Linked DNA regions of Homo sapiens: region 1 is linked to region 2. The links come from fine-mapping of genetic effects on gene expression. Tissue or cell type: whole blood. Region 2 holds a variant in brackets; the other region holds the start of a gene. All regions are shown on one strand. Distances are between the middles of the regions. Region 1 holds the start of SPESP1 (sperm equatorial segment protein 1). Region 2 has its middle 21 kb from the start of SPESP1.

The links. PIP is the estimated chance that this variant, and not a neighbour inherited with it, causes the effect.
Region 1: it holds the start of SPESP1, and the variant in region 2 is fine-mapped to the expression of SPESP1 in whole blood (INTERVAL, PIP above 0.99).

What each region holds. Positions count from the first base shown.
Region 1 is chr15:68,928,339-68,933,722 of GRCh38, reverse strand. It overlaps SPESP1 (sperm equatorial segment protein 1), which reads right to left and starts at 3,198. Exons shown (of 2, transcript NM_145658.4): 1 at 3,006-3,198. The coding sequence starts at 3,069. SPESP1-NOX5 (SPESP1-NOX5 readthrough) reads right to left here and starts at 3,198. Exons shown (of 17, transcript NR_033672.2): 1 at 3,006-3,198.
Region 2 is chr15:68,906,502-68,911,885 of GRCh38, reverse strand. No RefSeq gene overlaps it. Among named protein-coding and RNA genes, the nearest start is that of SPESP1, 21 kb to the left of the region's middle. The variant G/A (reference allele first, on the strand shown) is at 2,637.

The DNA of each region.
Region 1 (5,384 bases), 22 kb before region 2:
CACATCTGGCTAATTTTTGTATTTTTTGTAAAGACGGGGTTTCGCCATGTTGCCCAGCCTGGTCTTGAATTTCTGGGCTCAGGTGATCTGCCCGCCTCAGCCTCCCAAAGTGCTGGGATTACAGGTGTAAGACACCGTGCCCGGCCTGTGCATTTTTTTTTTTTTAAAGCAAAAAGAATTCTCATTAAAAAGTAAAGTAAGTTGCACAGTGCAAATACATTAAAGAGGGAATACATTAAATACTTTCCCATTCAAAAATTTAAAAATGGCAAAGTATTTAAAACTATGGAAAAATCAGGTAGAGGAAACTGAATGTATAAAAATTTTATATAGTAAAACGTTGTTTCTCCAGCACCATCAGGATGTGTGTGTGTGTATGTAAAGGAGTGCCGACTTCTGTATACCCAAGCTGCATTTATGTCTAACTGAATTTAGATTAAACAAATACTAGCTAAGCTTGGATTGGGCCTGTTAGAAAGGTATAGGCAGATACAAGAAGTACTGAGGTTTTCAATAAATGCAATTACTTAATACACCCGTGATGTTTGCGTAATAACCTCAAAACTGTCTAGTAGTCTAGAAAAAATGTGTCAAAGCTGCACTTTTCATTATAAAAACCTATGTACCTTATCTTTTGCATCTCGCCAACAATTGTTTGAATAGTGGCCATATAAAAGAATGCATAGCTGATTTACATCAAGCTCAATGATATACGCATTTTGGTATACTTATTTTAAAAACAAAATTAAAATTAGAGAAAAAGTAGAGAGACAGATACAGAGAAAGCAGCCATGTACCACTGCCTGCTCTATATATTCCTTAATCCACTTCTGTAGAAGAAAGGTAATTACATATTCCAAGACATCTTCTATGATTACAACCTGTATATAGTTTCCTTATGTCTTATAACATCTATATATTCAACACAAAATCACTCCTTTTTTCTGGGAAGCGTCTTTTCATTTCCTACAACCCTTTTCTTTCTTCCCAAGAAAGATTAGGGAATAGGGTGCTAAGAAAGACAACAGGCTGGCTGGGCACAGTGGCTCAAGCCTGTAATCCCAGCACTTTGCAAGGCCGAGGCGGATGGATCATTTGAGGTCAGGAGCTCGAGACCAGCCTGGCCAACATGGTGAAACCCCGTCTCTACTAGAAATACAAAAATTAGCCAGGCGGTAGTGGCGTGCGCCTATAATCCCAGCTACTCAGGAGGCTGAGGTGGGAGAATCCCTCGAGCCTGGGAGGCAGAGGTTGCGGTGAGCCGAGATCGGGCCACTGCACTCTAGTCTGAGCTAGAGAGTGAGACCCTGTCTCAGGCAAAAAAAAAAGGGGGGGAAAAGGGAAGGGGAGGGGGAGGGGAAAATTATGGTGTTAGGCAAGAGACTGCACTGAGTTAAGTGGGTGTCCAGGGACTCCTACCTAGCAGTCCCAGAGTGTACTGTGTGACAGTGTTAAAGTCACTTCAGTTAAAGTCTCCATATATGTTAGTCACTTGTGACTTGCTGATCTACAACTACCAAAATGCAATAACTGGTGTTAGTAATAATGATCATCAGACATCAAGAAAAGATAGTAGCATCTTCATTATGTTCTGGTCCTCTATGTCAAGGAAGAAAAATTTTACAAAACTTTTTATTAAAAACAGCTACAAATCATAAATGCTAGTATTTAAAGAGCTAACTTTAGTTACCTAGAACTTCATCTAGAACTTTTCCCATTACTATTCATAATTTAGATTGTGTTGTATTTTCAGTTTTTAAATTTGATTTTTAACTAAGATCGTTTAGCAATTCTGAAAAATAGATTTGCATAATCAGCATGCACGATAGCGCTTTTTTTACACCTGTTAAATTGTATTTATTGATTTAAGTGAAACCAAACTCCAACATTACTAAATGCCACAATGAACTACAGTTAGACTAAATGGGGAAGCCTCACCTACCTGACTTAAATACTAAGTGCCTTAAGGTGCCCACATGATATTGTTAATATAGTAAAGTCTTAGCACCCCTGAATTTGACCTTATTGGTTTTCAGCTTTCGGGGAGGGACAAAAATTGCTCCTTGGCAGGTCTTAAGTTATAATCCTGCTTAACTAAGGCTTTGAATGCCGTGTGCGCAAGCATGCTCTCTGGGAGCGCATCCTCAGGTGAGTGTCCCAGACCGCGACCCACAATCCACATGCTCTCCAAATTTTACCGTACGGGTCAACCTTTTTTTCTGTACAGGGCCAGAGAGTAAATACTTCAGTCTTTGCAGACCAGACTGTGTGGCAACCACTTAACCCCGTTGTTCTAACGTGGGAAAGCAGCCATGGGCAATACGTAAAGGAATGAGCGTGGTGGTGTGCCAGTAAAACTTTATTCACGAACAATGAAATGTGAGCGTCATGCTTTTCCACAAGTCATGAAAGAGTACATTTCATATTTACTTTGAAAATGCAAAAATAGAACATCACACACCAGGGCCTGCCGTGGGGTGGGGGGAGGGGGGAGGGATAGCATTAGGAGATATACCTAATGTAAATGACAAGTTATGGGTGCAGCACACCAATATGGCACATGGATACATATGTAACAAACCTGCACGCTGTGCACATGTACCCTAGAACTTAAAGTATAATAATTAAAAAAAAAGGAAGAAAATGTAAAAATCATTCCTAGCTGGCCAGCAGCTGTCACACGACCCCTGCACGGTCACACGCCCAATGGCTGGGGAAGGATCGGGTGGGCAGAGGAAGGCCTCCGGTGAGGTGAGGGGGTTCCACCCGCGCCCACGGCCCGCAGGCGCTTCCCGTCTCATCTGGGCCGCGCCGCCTCAGTTGCTGCGTTCCCTGACCAGGAGAGGAGAGGGACACCCCTCGGCGTCGAGGCCAGGACCCCGGACAGTGGGGGAGGGAGGCATGTAGGACCAGGGAGAAGGAAGGGCCAGGCTTCGAGGTCGCGGAGCTCGGGAAGTTCCCCCAGGGTGTCCCCGGTCCGCTGCCTCCTCAGGCCCGTCACTCACTCGGATAAGCCGGCACAGACGAAGGCCATAGCAAAAGCGCAACTAGAAGGACTAAGGGCTTCATAGGCGTCGTCCGTAGCACTCTGCCATGCGACCGGAACGTCCTGGGGCCACCAGGCTGGGAACCTCAAGGCCGAAAGGGAAGGTGTCAGCGGAGTACCGTCCTGCCTCAGGCCCTGGGACACCCAGCAACGGTTGTCCCCAGCGCGCAAGCGCAGCGGCATGGGGGAGGGGAGAGCGAGCGGCCAAGGCCCGCCCCTCCTGGGACCGCGTGCAGGGGGCGGGGGATCGCGCGCGCCCCGCCCCGCCCCTTCCTAGTGCGCATGCTCGCTCCGCCTTCGTAGGTCCGCGCCTGGTGTGGGCTGGGAACGCCTCGACGCCCGGCTACTGCGTGCGGGGTGCTGCCTCGGGGCGTGCGGGGCTCGGCCCATCCTGCGCGGTAGGGATACCGCCGTGGTTTAAACGCGGTCCCTGTGAGGAAGGAACTGTAATGGGAGAGGCAGATAACCTGGCAATTACCACAGCGTGAAAGGGGGCTGTAGTGGGGGAAGCGCTAGGTACTGTTGTGCACAGTGGAAACCCACCCCCGGAAGCGGGTGGGGAGCTTGGCTAAGTGGAGGACAGCTTGGAGCACCCCAAGAACTGAGCATAGTTCCGGCGAGTTGCATTGTGGGGCTTGGGAGGGCAGTTGTTGGAGGACAGGGAGGAGAGGTAGGCAAGGGCATTAAAAACGCCCTAAGGGGCTTGGGTGTTTTTGTTTTTCAAAAGATCACATTCCATTTCTTTGACCTTCTTAAAAAGATAGGGGTAGGGATGAGGGAGAGTACGACTATGAAAGGATAGCATGAGGTTGTTTTGGGGACTAATAGATGGCAGTGGCCACAAGAATCTATACATGTGTTAAAATTCACAGAAGGCCGGGCACGGTGGCTCACTCCTGTAATCCCAGCACTTTGGGAGGCCGAGGTGGGCGGACCACCTGAGGTCAGGAGTTCGAGACCAGCCTGACCAACATAGTGAAACTTCGTGGCTACTAAAAATACAAAATTAGCCAGGCGTGGGTGGTGGCACACGCCTGTAGTCCCAGCTACTTGGGAGACTGAGGCAGGAGAATCACTTGAACCCGGGAAGCAGAGGTTGCAGTGAGCCGAGATCGTGCCACTGCACTCCAGCCTGGGCGACAGAGCAAGACTCCACCTCAAAAAAATAAATAAAAATAAAAATTCGCAGAACTGCACATCCCAAAGAATCTGTTTTTCTGTATGGTTATTTTTAAAAATTCACGTACACTCATCTCTGCCTCAGGAAGCAAGGGGCTTGGATTTTAGTCTGAGGCACCAGTACTAGAGTACTGCTAGGTTTTGAGCTGGGAACGGTTGTGATTAGATTTGTATTCCAGAAAACTCACTCTTCCTGTAGCATGAAGAATGGACTGGAGGGAAGCAAGACTAGAGGCGCCGGCGGAAACTGAGACTGCGCACGGCGCTTGCGGGCCAGCCCGAGTTCCGGGTGGGCGTGGGCTCGGCGGGCTCGGTGGGCCCGGCACTCAGCGCGGCCGGCCGTCCCCGCTGGCCACGGGCAGTTGGGGGGAGCTTAGCACCTGGGCCAGGAGCTGCTGTGCTCGATTTCTCGCCAGGCCTTAGCTGCCTCCCCGCAGGGCAGGGCTCGGGACCTGCAGCCTGCCATGCCTGAGCCTCCCTGAGGAGCGCCGCTCCCTGCTCCACGGCGCCCAGTCCCATCGACCGCCCAAGGGCTGAGGAGTGCGGGCGCAGGGCCGGGGACTGGCAGGCAGCTCCACCTGCGCCTGGGTGTGGGATCCACTGGGTGAAGCCAGCTGGGCTCCTGAGTCTGGTGGGGACTTGGAGAACCTTTATGTCTAGCTAAGGGATTGTGAATGCACCAATGGGCACTCTGTGTCTAGCTCAAGGTTTGTAAATGCACCAATCAGCACCCCGTGTCTAGCTAATCTAGTGGGGACTTGGAGAACTTTTGTGTCTAGCTCAGGGATTGTAAATGCACCAATCAGCACCCTGTCAAAACGGACCAATCAGCTCTCTGTAAAGTGAACCAATCAGCAGGATGTGGGTGGGGCCAGATAAGGGAATAAAAGCAGGCTGCCCGAGCCAGCAGTAGTAACCCTATGGAGTCTCTTTCTGTCGTGTGGAAGGTTTGTTCTTTCGCTTTTTGCAATAACTCTTGCTGCTGTTTACTCTGGGCCCACACTGCCTTTATAAGCTGTAACACTCGCTGCGAAGGTCTGCCGCTTCACTCCTGAAGCCAGTGAGACCACGAACCCACCGGGATGAATGAACAACTCAGATGGGCCACCATAAGAGCTGTAACACTCACCATGAGGGTCTACAGCTTCACTCCTGGTCC
Region 2 (5,384 bases):
CAGCCTTATAGATGAAGAAGCAAAACCTGAGTTACTTCAATCATGTCAGTCTTTGTGACCTCTTAGCGTTTTCATTTGTATTTAAAGTTGAAAACAGGCCAGGTGCGGTGGCTCATGCCTGTAATTCCAGCACTTTGGGAGGCTGAGGCAGGCAGATCACCTGAGGTCAGGAGTTTGAGACCAGCCTGGCCAACGCAGCAAAAACCCATCTCTACTAAAAATACAAAAACTAGCTGGGCATGGTGACATGTGCCTGTAATTCCAGCTACTTTGGAAGACTGAGGTAAGAGAATCACTTAAACTTGAGAGGCAGAGGTTGCAGTTAGCCGAGATCATGCCACCGCACTCCAACCTGGGTGACGGAGCAAGACTCCATCTCAAAAAATAAAAGGAAAAAAATAATAAAGTTGGAAACAGTAAAGTAGGGCAAATTGTGAGATATATTTTTGTTGTTAACACAAATTTTATTTCATATGTGAAATATCTTTAAAATGTATACTCTTTTAGTAGTTGTTATAAAACTAAAGAACAAATCAAGAGAATCATTATTACTGATTATTACAGAAGGTAATCTTGCCCTATAGAGGATCGGGGATGTTGAATATATTAGGTATGCCATCAACTGCCCCCTAACAAAACAAAAAGTGAGAAGAGGCCTGCCAGAAGCACTGCTCCAAAACATTAACTCTGCAAGGAATATTTAAGGAGCTTTGGAATTGGGCGTTGGGCATTGCAGTGTTACCAGCTGTCTTTTTTTTTTTTGTTTTTTTTTTTTTTTCAACATTTTCCCACCAAAAGGCATACAGATACTGTAATAAGCACATTCAGCAGTTTGTTCTAGGTCAAATCTTGGGAACATTACGCTAAGTGAAATAAGACAGTCACAAAAAGACAAATACTACATGATTCCACTTAAATGTGGTTTTAAAGAAACCAGACTCTTAGAAACAAGCAGAATTGTTGCTAGGGACTGGGGAAAGGGGAGAGGGGGAGTTGCTGTTTAATAGGTATAGAGCTTCAGTTTTGCAAGATGAAAAAGCTTTTAGAAATCTGTTGCACAACAATATGAAAATAGCTGACACTACTGAACTTCACACTTAAAAATGGTTAAGATGATACATTTTATACTGTTTAGCACAAAAATAATTTTATAAAAATGTACCTTTTGAAGGTTTTTTTATCTGATATGTGTAATACATAAAGCCAATTCTATCTAGATCCAGTCTTTATATTCTTTTTTTAATATACAGACAGGGTCTCACTCTGTTGCCCAGGCTAGAGTGCAGTGTTGTGATCATAGCTCATTGCAGCCTCAAACTCTTGGGCTCAAAAGATCCTCTTGCCTCAGCCTCCTGAGTAGCTAGGACTACAGGTGCATGCTACCACACCCAGCTAACTTTTTAATTTTTTGTAGAGACAGGGTCTTGCTGTGTTGTCCAGTGTTTACATTCTAAAGACACTGTATGTTGTCTGTCTAGAAATAATATGCTTTGGAGTGACCCAAACTGCAGTTAATGACATTAACAGGTAGAGGTGTTTTACATACCCAATGAAGGGATACACCTTTGCAAACTTTTCTATATTCTTCACAGATGCAGTCTGGCCTGGTGCTATCATGAAGCACATGTTCTCTCTCTGCTTTCAAGGACAGACATTTATGGGTTTATGATCTTCTCTCTATAGAGTAGGAAATATGTCATAGAGTTACAATACAAACTCACATTCACTAAAGAACAATTTAATAAGCAGTTTCTTTATTTTCATTGTTAAAACATAACAAATTGAGGTGCCTGTATTATTCTAATTTTAATTTACAAAATTCTAATCTAGCTCACAGTAGGACCCTAAGGAAACATGTTTGAATTTTTGTTATCTTTCCAAAAGGCTGAATGTTTTGGCTTAAACAGTTTGACTTTTTTTTCATTTGTTTACTAATTTGTAATGTAATTTAATACATTGCCACTGATATGGACAGTAGACTCTTTTAGGCACTAGATAAAAAGCACAGCCTCTGTGGTCCATGCTCCAGATTATTTTTCTACTCAGTCCTAACACCTGTGACCACCTGGCTGCTTGCTCAAATATAACAAGCTGGAATGAGAATGAGACTTAGATATGATAGACTTGGCATGTATCCTCAGTGTGTGGGCTGGTGGGAGGGATCATTTGATAAACAGTTAACCCCTCAACAACACAGATTTGAACTACATGAGTCCACTTCTATGTGGGTTTTTAAAATAAATACATTAGAAAATGTGTTCTACATTTCCAACAATTTGAAAAAACTTTGATGTGAACCATGTAGCTTAAAAATAATGAAAAAATTAAGAAAGTTAAGTATGTCATAAATGTATAAAATATACGTCGATATTGGTCCATTTTATCATTTATTACCATAAAATGAGTCCATTATAATATGTTAAAATTTATAAAAACTTATGCACACACTTACAGACGGTAGATGACACAATTCAGTCAAGAGAAATGTAAACAAATATAAGATGCAGTATTAAATCGTAATGCACCAAATGAACTGTGGTATATACTGTACTACTGTAAAAACTTCATAGCCACCTCCTGTTGCTATTGTGGGGAGCTCAACTGTCGTGAGTATCTGCTTAACTCAAGTGATGCAG[G/A]TCATCTCCAGGTGAGCAGTTTCTCCCTGCAGACCATTGGAACCACAGTACATGTGATCTCTCATGGTTCTCACATAGCTTTCATTATGTTTAGTTCAATACTGTAAACCTTGACTCACACCATGGAATCCATACAAAGTGCCCCTAGTGATGCTGGAAGTGTCTCAAGAAGCAGAGAAAATTCATGACATTACAAGAAAAAGTTAGATTGCTTGATACGTACTGTGGATTGAGGTCTGCAGCTATGGTTGCCATTTCAGAAAGACAATTCACCTTGTAAACAGTTAACTTACAATACAGATAAATATAGTAGAGTACTGTCAATGGATTTTCCTTAGGATTTTTTAAATAACATTTTCTTTTGTTCTAGCTTACTTTAAGAATATAGTATATAATATATCTAATATACTAAATATGTGTTAATTGACTGTTTATGTTATCAGTAAGGCTATCAGTAGTTAAGTTTTGGGTGAGTCAAAAGTTACACATGGATTTTTGACTGAGCAGGGGGTAGGCACCCCTAACCCCTGCATCATTTAAGGATCAGCTGTATTTAAAACTCAGAGTTATGTTTTCACAAATTTGGAATTTTGTTACCAACCACTCTGAAATCCAGCCTCACTGGGCTTTCCCTGAGCCCCACCGCTTCTCTAAAATGCTTTGCCAGACCATTTCCACACCAGCCTTCCTCTCACTCCTCCACTCTTGCTGTACCCACTTTCTGCAACCCCACAACTCCTGCTCCAGTGAGAACTTACCTTTTCTTCTTCACAGACAACTACCCCTATAAACCTTTCGGCTGGTATTTATTTATTTTTCCTTTTAATACTTTGATTTCTTTTAACCATTGAACTTTTCAAAGGAATGCAATGTTTATATAGAACTGGCCAGAATTTCAGTTACAGTTATTTTAAAAACTGGATTTGTTAATGGAAGAGTGTTTTCCAACTAGACAAATAGAAGGCAAAATGGATTGCCATTAATACAAGTGAAATACTACTAGTTATTTTGACCTGGGTAGAAGTTACACGGGTGTTCCTTTTGTGACCAATCACTGAGCTCTTCATTTCTGTCTTATACACTTCTCTGTAAATTATATTTCAAAATTACATACTTTTAAAATGTTGATATACACTGTCAAATTGCCCTTCAAAAATTCTGTGCAAATCTACATTCAGACCCCCCAGTGAGCCAAGCACTTCTTCCACATGGCGCCCTTGCCAGTTGTACAGTAGATTTCTGCCTGCACAAAGCTCATCTACTTTCAATCATTTACTGAGAACATTTTGCAGTTGTGCAGTTTCCAGGTCTTCATCTATGCTATCGATAATTGTGAAATTATGAAACATGCCATAACCATCTGCAGAAACTTTGTCCTTCCAGTCTTCCATCTTGTTTTGCCATTTTGCCATTCCATCTTATCTGCATTTGAAAATACTTCATTTCATCCTCGCGTGAAATTAGTGAGATAACTTCACATATTGGGAATATCATAAAAGTTAGCAATTCTGACATCTTTAAAAAGCTGGGACCAAATTAGTTTCTTATCTTGCAGAAATACCAGGAGTTGGTGTTTGCAGAGAATGTTTATTCTCTGCAGAATTCTCCACTCAGCAACCATCATACCTCATCATACAACACCACTTGTTTATGATTAGCTTCCATATGATCACAGAATAGCCTCACATTTAACACATAATCCTTTATGTAACTCACAATTTTAACTATGCTGCTAAGACACTATTGGTTCAGCTGGTTTTTTTGTTTGTTTGTTTGATAGCAAGACTTTCTCAATGAAGGAACAGCATGTTGGTTTATATTCTGGCCCAGCTCTTTTCTCTGGATTAACTACTCCAGAATGCTTACCTGTCATTACATCTGTGCATCAAAAATACTTCTACCCCTAATCTCCAAACCACATAGACAGTGTAATCTATCATCATTTTATACAGTTCTGAGTTCTGTTTATGGTAATGAAGTTGGAAAAAAAAATTCTACTTTCATATTACCATCATGCTCAAATAACACATATACTAAAAGAATTGCTTTGTTAGCGTTACCTGTGCATCAGGTTTCATTAAAAAATAGTTTGCTGGCTTTATTTGTACCATAAATTGGTCTTCCACATAATTAGATAGTTTTAAAATACATTAATCTATAGTTTCATTGGAAAACAGTCTTCACAGTATCTTCTTTGCTCAAGATTCCCCCATCATTTCCAAGCAAACATTTTTTATGAAGTTTTTTGCTAATGTCACCACAATTTAATTTTTTGTCCTAGTCATGCAAAGTGCTACTTGATAAGAAGCCTGAAAAGTACTACTCACTCTTCATATATGAAATATTGAACATCTTCTTCCATTAACTTTTTAATTCAATATTCCTTCTTTCAAACAATTCTTTTCATTGTGAATGTGTGTCTTTATGAGTTGCGTATGCATGTTGCCTATAGTTTGACGGTGAATTGCTTACATTAGCCAGTATATCTCTGCAAATAACACATTCAAATTTTAGTGCTTCTCAATTAATTAGAGCAGTGCAACTGAACTCAGTATGTAAAGGATTATACTTCTGAGTCAATCTAGCAGAAACTCTTTTGGTTGTCATGTCTTCAAAATTACTTTCATCGTTATTATTTGATTTACTACTCGTGCTACATTTAGAAAAGGTATGTATTTTCTAGATTTTTAAAAATTCCAATGAAAGTTAATTCTAGTAAATTATGGCTAAAAAGAAATGACACAAATT